2 separate regions of the Homo sapiens genome follow, and region 2 is linked to region 1. The links come from fine-mapping of genetic effects on gene expression. Tissue or cell type: whole blood. Region 1 holds a variant in brackets; the other region holds the start of a gene. All regions are shown on one strand. Distances are between the middles of the regions. Region 1 overlaps RAB28 (RAB28, member RAS oncogene family). Region 2 holds the start of RAB28 (RAB28, member RAS oncogene family).

Evidence for each region. PIP is the estimated chance that this variant, and not a neighbour inherited with it, causes the effect.
Region 2: it holds the start of RAB28, and the variant in region 1 is fine-mapped to the expression of RAB28 in whole blood (TOPMed, PIP above 0.99).

The regions. Positions count from the first base shown.
Region 1 is chr4:13,373,608-13,378,993 of GRCh38, reverse strand. It overlaps RAB28 (RAB28, member RAS oncogene family), which reads left to right. Exons shown (of 7, transcript NM_001017979.3): 6 at 2,372-2,449. Among named protein-coding and RNA genes, the nearest start is that of RAB28, 110 kb to the left of the region's middle. The variant A/G (reference allele first, on the strand shown) is at 3,332.
Region 2 is chr4:13,481,668-13,487,053 of GRCh38, reverse strand. RAB28 (RAB28, member RAS oncogene family) reads left to right here and starts at 2,714. Exons shown (of 7, transcript NM_001017979.3): 1 at 2,714-2,978. The coding sequence starts at 2,904. LOC105374495 (a long non-coding RNA gene) reads right to left here and starts at 2,605. Exons shown (of 3, transcript XR_925413.1): 1 at 2,100-2,605; 2 at 727-893. RefSeq lists silencers at 2,253-2,312, 2,275-2,569, 2,563-3,182 and enhancers at 2,453-2,572, 1,832-2,739, 2,535-2,829.

The DNA of each region.
Region 1 (5,386 bases):
CGTGATTCACCCGCCTCAGTCTCCCAAAGTGTTGGGGTTACAGGTGTGAGCCAATGCACCAGGCCGATGACTATTTCATAGCTTCTCTTCTCTCTTCAAATGTTCAAACTATCCTCCTCTATTCTATCAGCTGATGACCTTGTTTCCTATTTTATAAGAAATTTGAAACAAACAGAAGACAACTTCTACATACTGCTGCTACCAGGTCTAACCTCATCCTACTTACCCCATCTGTTCTCATATCTTCTGTCTTCTCTGTGGTTACTATGGGATCTATTCTAGCTAGGGCCAACTTCTCCATTGTGTACTAGTCCCATTTATCTTTGCTGAATCAAGGATATTGCTTTAGCAGTTCTCTCTCTTTCATATGTATTATTTTTTTTCCACCTACTGGATTATTCTTTCAACACAGAAAATATTATGACTTCTTTTATCTTAAAAACAAGAAAACTCTTGATGCCACATTTTTTCTCTAGCTGTTGCCTTATTTCCTTCCTTCACTTTCCAGTGGATGTTTTAAAGAATTGTCTCTAGTTCTTCTTTTGCCAGTTTCTCTTCCAGTTCCAGCAGACTTTTGCCCTCAGTATTTTACCCAAACTGCTATTATTCACGTCATCAATGGCCTCCTTTTTGCTGAATCCAATGGTCAGTACTCAGCCCTCATCTTATTTTATTAAGTAGCAACATAAATAATTGCTGATCACTCTCGTCTCTTTGAAATACTCTCTGCACTTAGCTTCCAGGATACAACGCCTCCTGGTTTTCTTCCTGCTTCACTAACTACTCTGTCAGTCCCCTTGACTAATTTTCTTATGTCTCCAGCCAACTAAGGTTCAGTCCTTTGATAATCTCTTTTTCTACACTTATTCCTAATGGCTTTATTTAGTCTTCTGGCTTTGCTCAGACTTTTCCCCTGAACTGTAGACTCTTATATCCAACTGCCCGCTCAGCATCTCCTCTTAGATGTCTAATAGGCTGCCCAATTTAACATGTTTAGAACTGAGCTCTTGCTATTCCCTCCTCAAATCTCTCACAGTCTTCCTCACTTTAATAAATAGCAGATCTACCAGTTGCTCAGGCCAAAAAAACTTTGGAGCCTTTCTTGACTCCTCTTTTTCTCTCACACCCCACATCTGTCACCAAATCCCCTTGGCTGTACTTTGAAAATATATCCAGAACCTGATGACTGTTTCTTACTTTGTCCACTTCTACCACTTTGGTTCAGCCTCCATAATATTTTACATTAGTTTCTTTGCTGATTCTGTTTTTGTACACTTGGTCTCCTATAGTGAATGTTCAATACAAACAACCAGACTAATGCTGTTAAAATAAAAGTCACATTGGGCCACCCTCCCATGCCTTCCATTTCATTTGGAGTAAACGCCAAAGTCCTTCCAGTAGCCTACCAGATTTTACATGGTTTGTACTCCCTTCATCTCTTTGCTCGTCTTCTTTTATAACCACTCTTTCTCTCCACTCCACCACAGTACTTTTCCTGTTGTTCCTTGACCATTGACCATCAGTGAACTAAAATATGCTTCTTAGGGTACAAGTGGCATAAGGCTATCAGGAATATGTATCCTTTTTTGTTAGAAGTAAAAATTAATAAAGTTTTGATAAATATTCTATAAGCATGTGATGAATAGGGATAAGAATATGGTAGGACATTTATGAAGAAAAGATAAGTTATACTACAGTAAATGTCAGGATTGGAACTCTAGTAATTACAGCAGACCTGACATAAGCTAACTATGTGTGGAAAGGCTATTTATAGAAAAATATTTGTCTATTTTTGTTTAATCGTAATGGCATATATTTTTCCTTTGCTCTGAACTGATAAAATATAGTAAACAGTACCAAGTTGCTTTACTCAAGAAACATGGAGAATTTGCTGGAATGATATGAAAGGCACAGAGAGTATTAAAGTGTTAGAAACTAAGACCTTTTGAGATAGGCCAAAGGTGGCTAAAAGGACCAAGATAAAACCGACAGTGAAAAACTAGGTTGGTAAAGTATAGATTATTTTTATTTTCTTCAGGAATTATGGGAGTTTTTATAGTAGTAAGTAGGATTGTTTTGTTGTTTTTTAAAGTGGTAGCTGTAATCATCATGTTAAATCTTTCATGTGTGTGTTTAGAGAAAATGATCAATTCATTGAATTGCATGGAGTTTTAAATTATGGCTTTATAATTTAAAAATTATTATATTTAAAATGTTGCTACATTTGACAAATAAAGCTATTTTTGGAATCACCTGCTATATCATATTTTTGCAATTATTGCTGTTTATCATTTTTAAGAAAATTCTGTTTATTTGAAGATAACTTAAGCATGCCTCTTTTAAATCATTTAAACCCATTTTTGTTATGTAGGTCTTCCTGTGCTTTCAGAAAGTTGCTGCTGAAATCCTTGGGATCAAATTAAACAAAGCAGAAATAGAACAGTCACAGGTGATTACCTTGAACTTTATATTTAAAAAATTAATGAATTTCTTACAAGGCATTAATTTTCACCCATAAATTCTTTCCCATTTATGCCTTCTGTGTACGTATCTCTAAAAGCTTTGGGAATAGATTGTATGTATGAATCAGTGTTTATTGCAGAAGATGGAGAATGTTAACTTTTTGCCAAATTATGATACCCTTGAAACCTCATTTTGTCTCTTTTGTTGGGAAAAAGATACTAGTATAAGAAAATTTTTATTAGTGGTTAACTAATGAGTTAAGGTGCTGACCACATTGTTTGGCACTTCTTTATTTAAATCCTTTTGGAGCCTCTATTCAATTTTAAAACATCCTTGACTGTAGTGATATTAGTTTTTGATGTTATTTTATTGTCAGTTTAGTAGTGTTATTAATTAGTAAGGATTTCTATGTTTTTTCACTATTCCTAGATAGTTTTCTTAGGCTAAGAAAAAAACATGCATAGCGGCAGCCAAGAAATTTAAAGTACCACTATAATTTCCCACTAATTCATATGTTTGATAGAATGAAAAATCAGAGTAAGAGCCTATAAAGTTATGCTTCAGAAGTGGTTTGGTTAGAAGTAACAAACTAATTACATTTTTGCTCAATTTCTTCCACCCCATTCGCACCCTGTGCAACTAAAAAAGTATAATTATCTTTTCCCATCCTTAAATTTTTCTTGAATTCTTTTAGAGTTAGTTCTGTATCTTTTTCTCATGGTCTCTCTCTCTCTCTGTGTGTGTGTGTGTGTGTGTGTGTGTTTTAAAACAATTGAAGCAAATATTTGAAATTGTTACACTGATATGGCTGTTTCTAAGACTTGATTAAAACATTTGAAACTCTAAAAGTTTGCTAGTTTTAATTCCC[A/G]TCATTCAAAGACATTTGTTTTAGCACTTGGTATGGCCAAATACAGTGCTAAGATACTTTGTGATGTTTAAATAGCTCCCAGACACAGAAAAAGTGGTTACTTGTTTTGGGCCTAGGAGAATATAGGAAAGAGAAGTCACCATGATTTGCTTGATCACACAGACCTTGGATCCCAGAGGTCAAGTAATTTGTTTGCTTTTTAGCTTCTCTGTCTAAATAATGTTTGTCTCTGCTTAGTTAGAGAGTCTATGATTATCATAAGTGATTTATTGGTCATACATTGTAAACTCAGTATAGTGGTGGGTCTAAAAAAGAATTAAAAGACTTTAAAATGTCCCTGCTTTTAGTAAAGAAAATTAATAGGTTATGTGCCAGGGGGACTGTGTTATCTCAGTTATCCTCATAATAACTCCCTGGATCAGGTGAAATTTTATCATTTTATGATCAGGAAGCTGAGACTGTGGAGAGACTCAGTAACTTGATCACTAACCATTAATTGGGCAGTGGTGGAGCCAGAATTTGCACCCAGGTCTCTCTGACACCAATGCCCTTGGTATTTCCACTCTGCCATACTGGGGGAAAGTGTACTGGGCAGTTTGGAGTGGGAAGGGAGAAAATGGCTGAAAGAGGAGCTGGTATGAATAATATACCTGGGTAGAAAAGGTTAGGTTGTATTTTGGAAACAGAAGAGCAGTTTGGTTAAAATAAATGACCATTTGTGTTAGAGTATAAAGAGTTTGAGAACAGATTTTGGGGATTTATGAATGCCAAGTTGATTAATTTTATTAGACCTATAATCATTTTGAGGTAGGGCAATAAATGAAAGCAGTTTTTAGGTAGAATTAATCTAATGGGATATTTTTATATGTCGTTGGATGGGAGGGAGATTGAGGTAAGGAGACTGAGTTACTGCTACCATGTGAAAAAGACCAAAGTCAAGATGGAATGGAAAGGTTGGATGGATGTAAGGGAGATTTTAAAGAAGAACCAATAGGGCTTGTGGAATTATTGGATAAGAGAGGATAGAAGTCTGAGATAACCCTGAGGTTTCTTGCCTGGAGGAATGAAGACAGGAGAAACCCAATGATTGGTTGTCTTTCTGAAAAGGGGAATGGTGGGCTGGTGCTTCACAGGTGAGAGGGCTGCACTGAGGAAGGATTCCTTGTACTGCCTGAGCTGTGCAGTGGTGATCAGATACAAGGAGACCTCTGGAGAAATGAAACAACTGGAGGCAAAATTTGGGGGAAGCTTTATTAACATTAGGTCCCTCATGTTGCAAGATCAACAGGGTTACTATTTTGACTTTAGATATGGGCTTAATATCCTAGTGTGTTTTAAATAAAGAGATATTAGATGTGTTAACTACATAGTTCCCTACCCTCCCTGCACATCTACTTTGTTTATTATGCTTTGAGGTTTAATTCTATCTTCAGTTTGTTGGTGGCATTTACTCTTAATGCATTCATTTGAAGGTGAATTCAAGTTACTGCAGCACTCTTCTATATGTTTGTCAAAATTCTTTGTGTATAGCAAGAATCCTTATTAGTCTTTCTTGATCCTGATGAATTTGGTGTTTTTGCCAATTAAATTATTGATTTTACAATTCATATTTCTCAGTGGAAACATTTTGGCAAGTTCATCTAAAAGACTAAGAAGTGCAGATTATATATATATACACACACACATATATACACACACACACATACATACATACATACATATATATACACACACATACACACTGCATGTGGTTGTTGCGACATTTGAAAGATTACTGGGGGGATTCAAGGGAATGTTTGAAAGTACTTTGTATTATTCTATAGAGAAGGAGTTAAATGGCAGACTCACCAGTCCCATTGATGTTGATGCTCTACTATAATAATTTAGTTTGTGACATAAATATTTACAGTGAGGTTTTAGTCCTAGTTTCATTCACTGACAATTTAAAGAGATTCTGCTAGTTTATTTCTAACCTAGATTGCTCCTATTTGGGAGTTATATAAAATGAGTTATCAACACACTTTGCAAGCTTTGCAAGGAAGAGGAAGAGAGAGA
Region 2 (5,386 bases), 110 kb before region 1:
AAAGGAAGAAACTCCTTGAATGTGGACGTATTCAAATAAGGTTTGAATAATTATCTGTTAGAGATGCTATAAAAGATATTTTATACAATGTCTAGAATTCTTATAAACCTTTTGTCTATTAGTTTTAAAATGACTGAAGACCATTCCTCTAATTTTTGACCCTGTTAAGAGCATTGTACATGAGAATCCACAAAGATATATTCTTTTTGGTGGATCAGCTCTATGTTTCTTTAGTATGTCAGAGTATCATACTGGAAGCTCTCAATGCTAAAATGGTCCTCCTCACATAGAAAGTTTTTTTTTCTTTTTCTTTATAAAAATGGCTCTAAGTCTTTAAATTCTAACTTTTAACCCAGAAACTTGCCATATGTGTAAAATATGATCCCTAAAATAGTGCAACTTTTTGTTTTATATAACACTATCCTATTGATGTACCCATATCCAAATGAATGTTGTCTCTCAATCAAAGCAGTCATCTCAGAAATTGATGAGTGGAAAATGAGAAGCTTTCTTCTAGATTTCCCTTCATATAAAACCACATATGAAAATCAGGCCTATGAGTTCAGCTAAATCTAGTTTTTGGCCGAAGTAGTTATGTCAGTTGGAATTTTTTTGTTTGTAGGTAACACAATTCATCGCCAAAGTACCATATTATTATTTCCCATAACAAGAAACCGAGAAGATAGAGTGAACAAAGTGTAGTAGTTCCAAAAATCCTGTTCTTACCTAATAATGACAGCAAAGGAAGGGAGGAGGAGGACTCCCCTGTAACTCTCCTTTTTTCTTTTCCTTTTTTTTAAATGGTGGGGGGAGGGTTCTTTTACAAATGTCTTCCAAAGGACACTGTCTTCTGTCTCATTAGTCCGGTGGATCACATAGCTATCTAAGGAAGACTGGAAAAGAAATTTTCTTGCATTTTAACTGCCCTCATGGACAAGAAGTGGTTAAGTCTGTCCTCACTGGAAGTAGATTCTTCTCACTAACAAGTACATATCCTCTTTCTTCTAATTCTTATGAATAAATCTGGTGAATAGAAAATTGGTGGTGGCAATGGTGGTGCGGGATTGGGGAAAGAATTGGGTACTAATACTTAACTGGGTACCTATAATTGTGGGCCAGCCCTCTCTGCAGATGAAGAGACTGAGGCTCTACATAAGAAACTTGTATAAGGTAAATTGGCTAGAAAGTAGTGACACTTCCAACACGGACCATCATCTAATTATGATGATGATGAGGGTGATAGTTACACTGGTTAATATTGAGTGCTTACTACACACCAGGCATTGTGCTATCTACTTTATGCCGATTATTTCATTTAATTTTCAAACCTACACAAAGGCAGTAGTCTGTTCTACAGGTGAACTAACTGAGGCTCGAGGACACATATCTAGTAAACATGAGATTAAACTCCAGTGATGCCTCTAGGTCTGGGCATTTCTTTACACTGTTCTGCTTTCCTGTTCTAATGCCCATATGGTCTCCAAGACTACTGCCTCTGGGCTAAGCATTTTGTTAACTTAAGATACTTCATCTGCAAAATGGGGATAATTATACTTCATAATTCCTAATAGTAGTAAAGGTAACAATAAATTTTAAGTGATTAACAATGAAACAACCATAGCAGGACAGCATTATTATTTTTGAATTTACCTCACTAAATTGTAAATTTCATTTATGCCGTTTACCTAACGCTCCTGGACTGAGATTATCCAGGGCAGCAGTTCTTAAATTTTTTGGACTCAGGGCCTCTCTATAATGTTAAAGAATTACTGTGACCTCCAAAGAGCTTATGTTTATGTGGGTTACACCTATCACTACTGCATTGAAATGAAAACTGAGAAATGTTTAAAAACAACAAACGCAAGCTCCCTTAGCTGCCAGTGATGACGTCGTACACAAAGCGTATCCTCCAGGAAACGGTATACTAGTGAGAGAAGGAACGTGAGAAAGACAGACAAGGTGTCCGTATTATTATGAAAATTGTTCTGAGGTCATCGGGATTTCCAGAGGTCCCTAGACCACACTTTATGAGAACTGCTGCCTTAGGGTAAAGATGGGGTGCCAGGAGGTTGGCGATCAGTAGCGTCTGATGAACGAACCATGGGAGCCTGGGGTTGTTCAGATGAGGAAACCAAGAGTTAGGCCGAAATAAGCAGCGCCGGAGCTCCACTGTATTCACGGCCGCTACTGAGGCTTCCCAGCAGCCTCGGCCCTTAGCAGCTGTCCCCTCATCCGCCCCGAGGTACCCTCTTCCCTGGTCCGGTTTTTCAGGGGCCCTCTCTGGCGCTCTCCGCCAGGCTACGGGCGTCCCGGGTGCCCGGAGACAGGCCCCGCCCCGCCGCCGGTCCTCGAACTCCTGGCTGCCAGGCAACCCTGGCGCGTAGCCCGGGCGTCACTGCTCCACCCCGTCAGGCTGAACCATTCCCTTCAGAGACTTTCTCAAGAGGGAAGGAGAAAAGGGAATTTGATGGAACGCCTGAAAGCTGCTCTGCTCCCGTTTTCTCTCCTTAATTTGAACGAACACTTCTTTTCTTCTTCTAGCCAACTGTCTCCTGAAGGGAAACGCAGCGCCTCGCCTCTCCCGCCGGAATGTCCCCCACACCAGTCCAGGGCCGCGAGTGGTTCGGCTCGTCAGGCGGGGCCGCCGGTCGGCGCGGGTTGGCTCTGAGGCGGGGGCGCGCGCCCGACGTGCGCGTAGGGGGCGGGGCCGCGCGCAGAGGGCGGGGAGGTGGGCAAGATGGCGCTTGCCGAGTGATTCTCCTCGAATACCTCCTGCCGGCGCGGAGACACCGGGGCGGGGGTCCTGCCGCAACTACCTCCCTTCCTCCTCTCCCCCGCCCCCGGAGCCTTCATCCTTCCCTTCCCCCCCCACCTCGAGGGGCGGGCCTGGTTCCCGGGACACCATGTCGGACTCTGAGGAGGAGAGCCAGGACCGGCAACTGAAAATCGTCGTGCTGGGGGACGGCGCCTCCGGGAAGGTCAGTCCTCGAGCAGGCCCGCCGTCCCAGGCCTGCAGGAACCCCGGCGGTCCCCGGCCTCCTCCCCGCCGCCCGGCGTCGCCTCGTTACCCCGAGCCCTCGGGCTTCTAGGCCCGGGCCCTTCTGGTTGTGTGGCCTGAGGCCGGACACGAAGTGGGCGCTTGGTGAAGGCCGACGAGAGCTGTCCAGCTCCCCCTTAAAAAAGAGTCACTTCCTAACTCCCCGCCTGGATTGCGAACTCCTGCAAGACTCGGGCCAGCCTTTCAGCTTCCCGCCTCTCAGGACTGGCAGGGATTTGCCAAGGCATCTTAGCTCCTCTTACTTGTAGTCTGGGTCACACTTACTCCTCCCCTCCCACCCCCTTTACCGTTTCTGATGCTTCTACTGCATCGTGAGCTCCCAGGAGCGTAGCTCTGGAATCAGTATTCCCCGGGTGAGAATTGGGGCTCTGCCACTTAGTCGTCGGGTCATTGGAGGGCAAATTGCTAATCAGTTTAAGCTTCATCTGTAAGATGGGTATTGAAAAGGGCCGCCGCAAAGGGAGAAATGTGAAAATACATATTAAATGTGAAAATACACATAAAACCTTTAGAGCACAGTGTCCACTCAGTACACTCTAGTTGCTATTTTAATATCATACCTGTTCATCACCTCTGTTTCCAGCTCAGCACTCGATACAAGCAGTCAGTCAACAAGTGTTTATGGAGCTCCTGTTACGGGTAGGATGCTGAGGGTAGAGCTGCTTGCGTGACAAAAGGGATCCCCTGTTCGAATGAATGAATGCGGGCGTGAGAATATCAGGCAGCGTCAGTCTTATTATCTCCTAGGCAGGGGCTCCTACCCCAAGGCTGTGGAACTCCTGAAATGGAGTAAATACTGCCCGGTACGTGCTCTGGGGAGAGGGTCCATAAGATCTCAGAGGGGTCTATGATCCCTCCACCAGCAAATAGTGAAGAGCCTCTACCCGGATGCCTTCTTTCCCATGCTTCTGTCAAAGGCGCCAACACTTTCTGGGAATATTGCTAAAGTTTATCACCCCTGTACTCCCCTTCCTTATCCCAACCATAGTCTAAAGAAACCCAGGCTTTTATTTCCTGTTTAAGGCTTCACATTTCCCTGTTGCTGGTTGCATTTCGGACCCTGGTTTCTCTGGTGACGACTTCTCTTTGCATCCTCCCTGACAGTTGGCACTGCCCAGATACCTGCTTCTGCCTTTGGTTCTGACATTTGAGTTTCGAGGTCACCTGGGAAAGATGTAAAATTTTATATGCAAAATTTGAAGTATTTTTTTGTTTCTTTCTTGTCTTCTTGGATCCTTTGTTACAGATTTTTAAAGCTGAGGAAAACAATATGCTCTGATTACCTTTAAACGTTGGGGGAAGAAAGGAACTTGGGGTAACTTTTCTTTATAAAGTATATTAATTTTTGTATACTTAGTAAACTTTTCGAATGAATGAATTGCTATAAATAAATCATTGTTTCTAACACCTTTATTCAATAAAAAGTTTGTTAGATTTTTATAGTTTTCTCATCATTTAGATTTTCTTTTGAAGGCCGTCTAAGGTTTTGGCTCTTAAATTTTACTGTATTCAATTCATAACTGATCTTATTTCCCATTTAAAATGATAATGACAACTCATAACAATACATTTGTAAAAAGACACAAAAATTGCTGGTTATCCTATATGCTATCATAATTCTTTAAACTGTTGTTCATTTTTCTAACAGTATTTATTGTACATATATTACTTAGTGAAATTTGTTCATAATTTTGCGTCTGAGTTTTTTATTTAGCCTATCATACATGTTTCCTCTTTGTTGCTAATTTAGTGTGAATAATTATGGTTTTTTATCTCTGTTTAAAATTTTTTCTTGTATAGGACAGGATAATTTTTTCACTTCCATGTTTTTGAATTAGTATTATCATTCTGCTTCAAAGGATAACAGTTAATATTTTTTATGGTGCTCTGACTTAATCTTCATTATCTTGACTAAATAACTTATTTTAAAACTGTAACAGCTTTTTCTAACAGGAACTTCCAGACACAAACATCTGACACCTAACCTTCTTTCATTATTCTTAAATCAAGAATTTTTTTCTCCATACCCTATTCAGTTCTCAAATACTTGGCAGCCACCAACATTCCCATTCTTTTTCCTTTATTGTTCTTTTCTTTGTGAACTCAGCCTCTCTTTCATTCTTACTTGTATCCTGATTTAACTCTTGGCTCTTTTTTCCTGGCATTTGTTTTTCCTGCTCAATCTAACTCTGAGCATTTTTCAACACACTGACAGATGCAATAGAGTATTGAGATGATGACTAACAGTTTCTCCAAGAGAAATTTAGCTCCTCCTTCCAGTATCACGTGTTTCTATTTCTTTCCTTTTCTGATTCATATTTTTTCTTT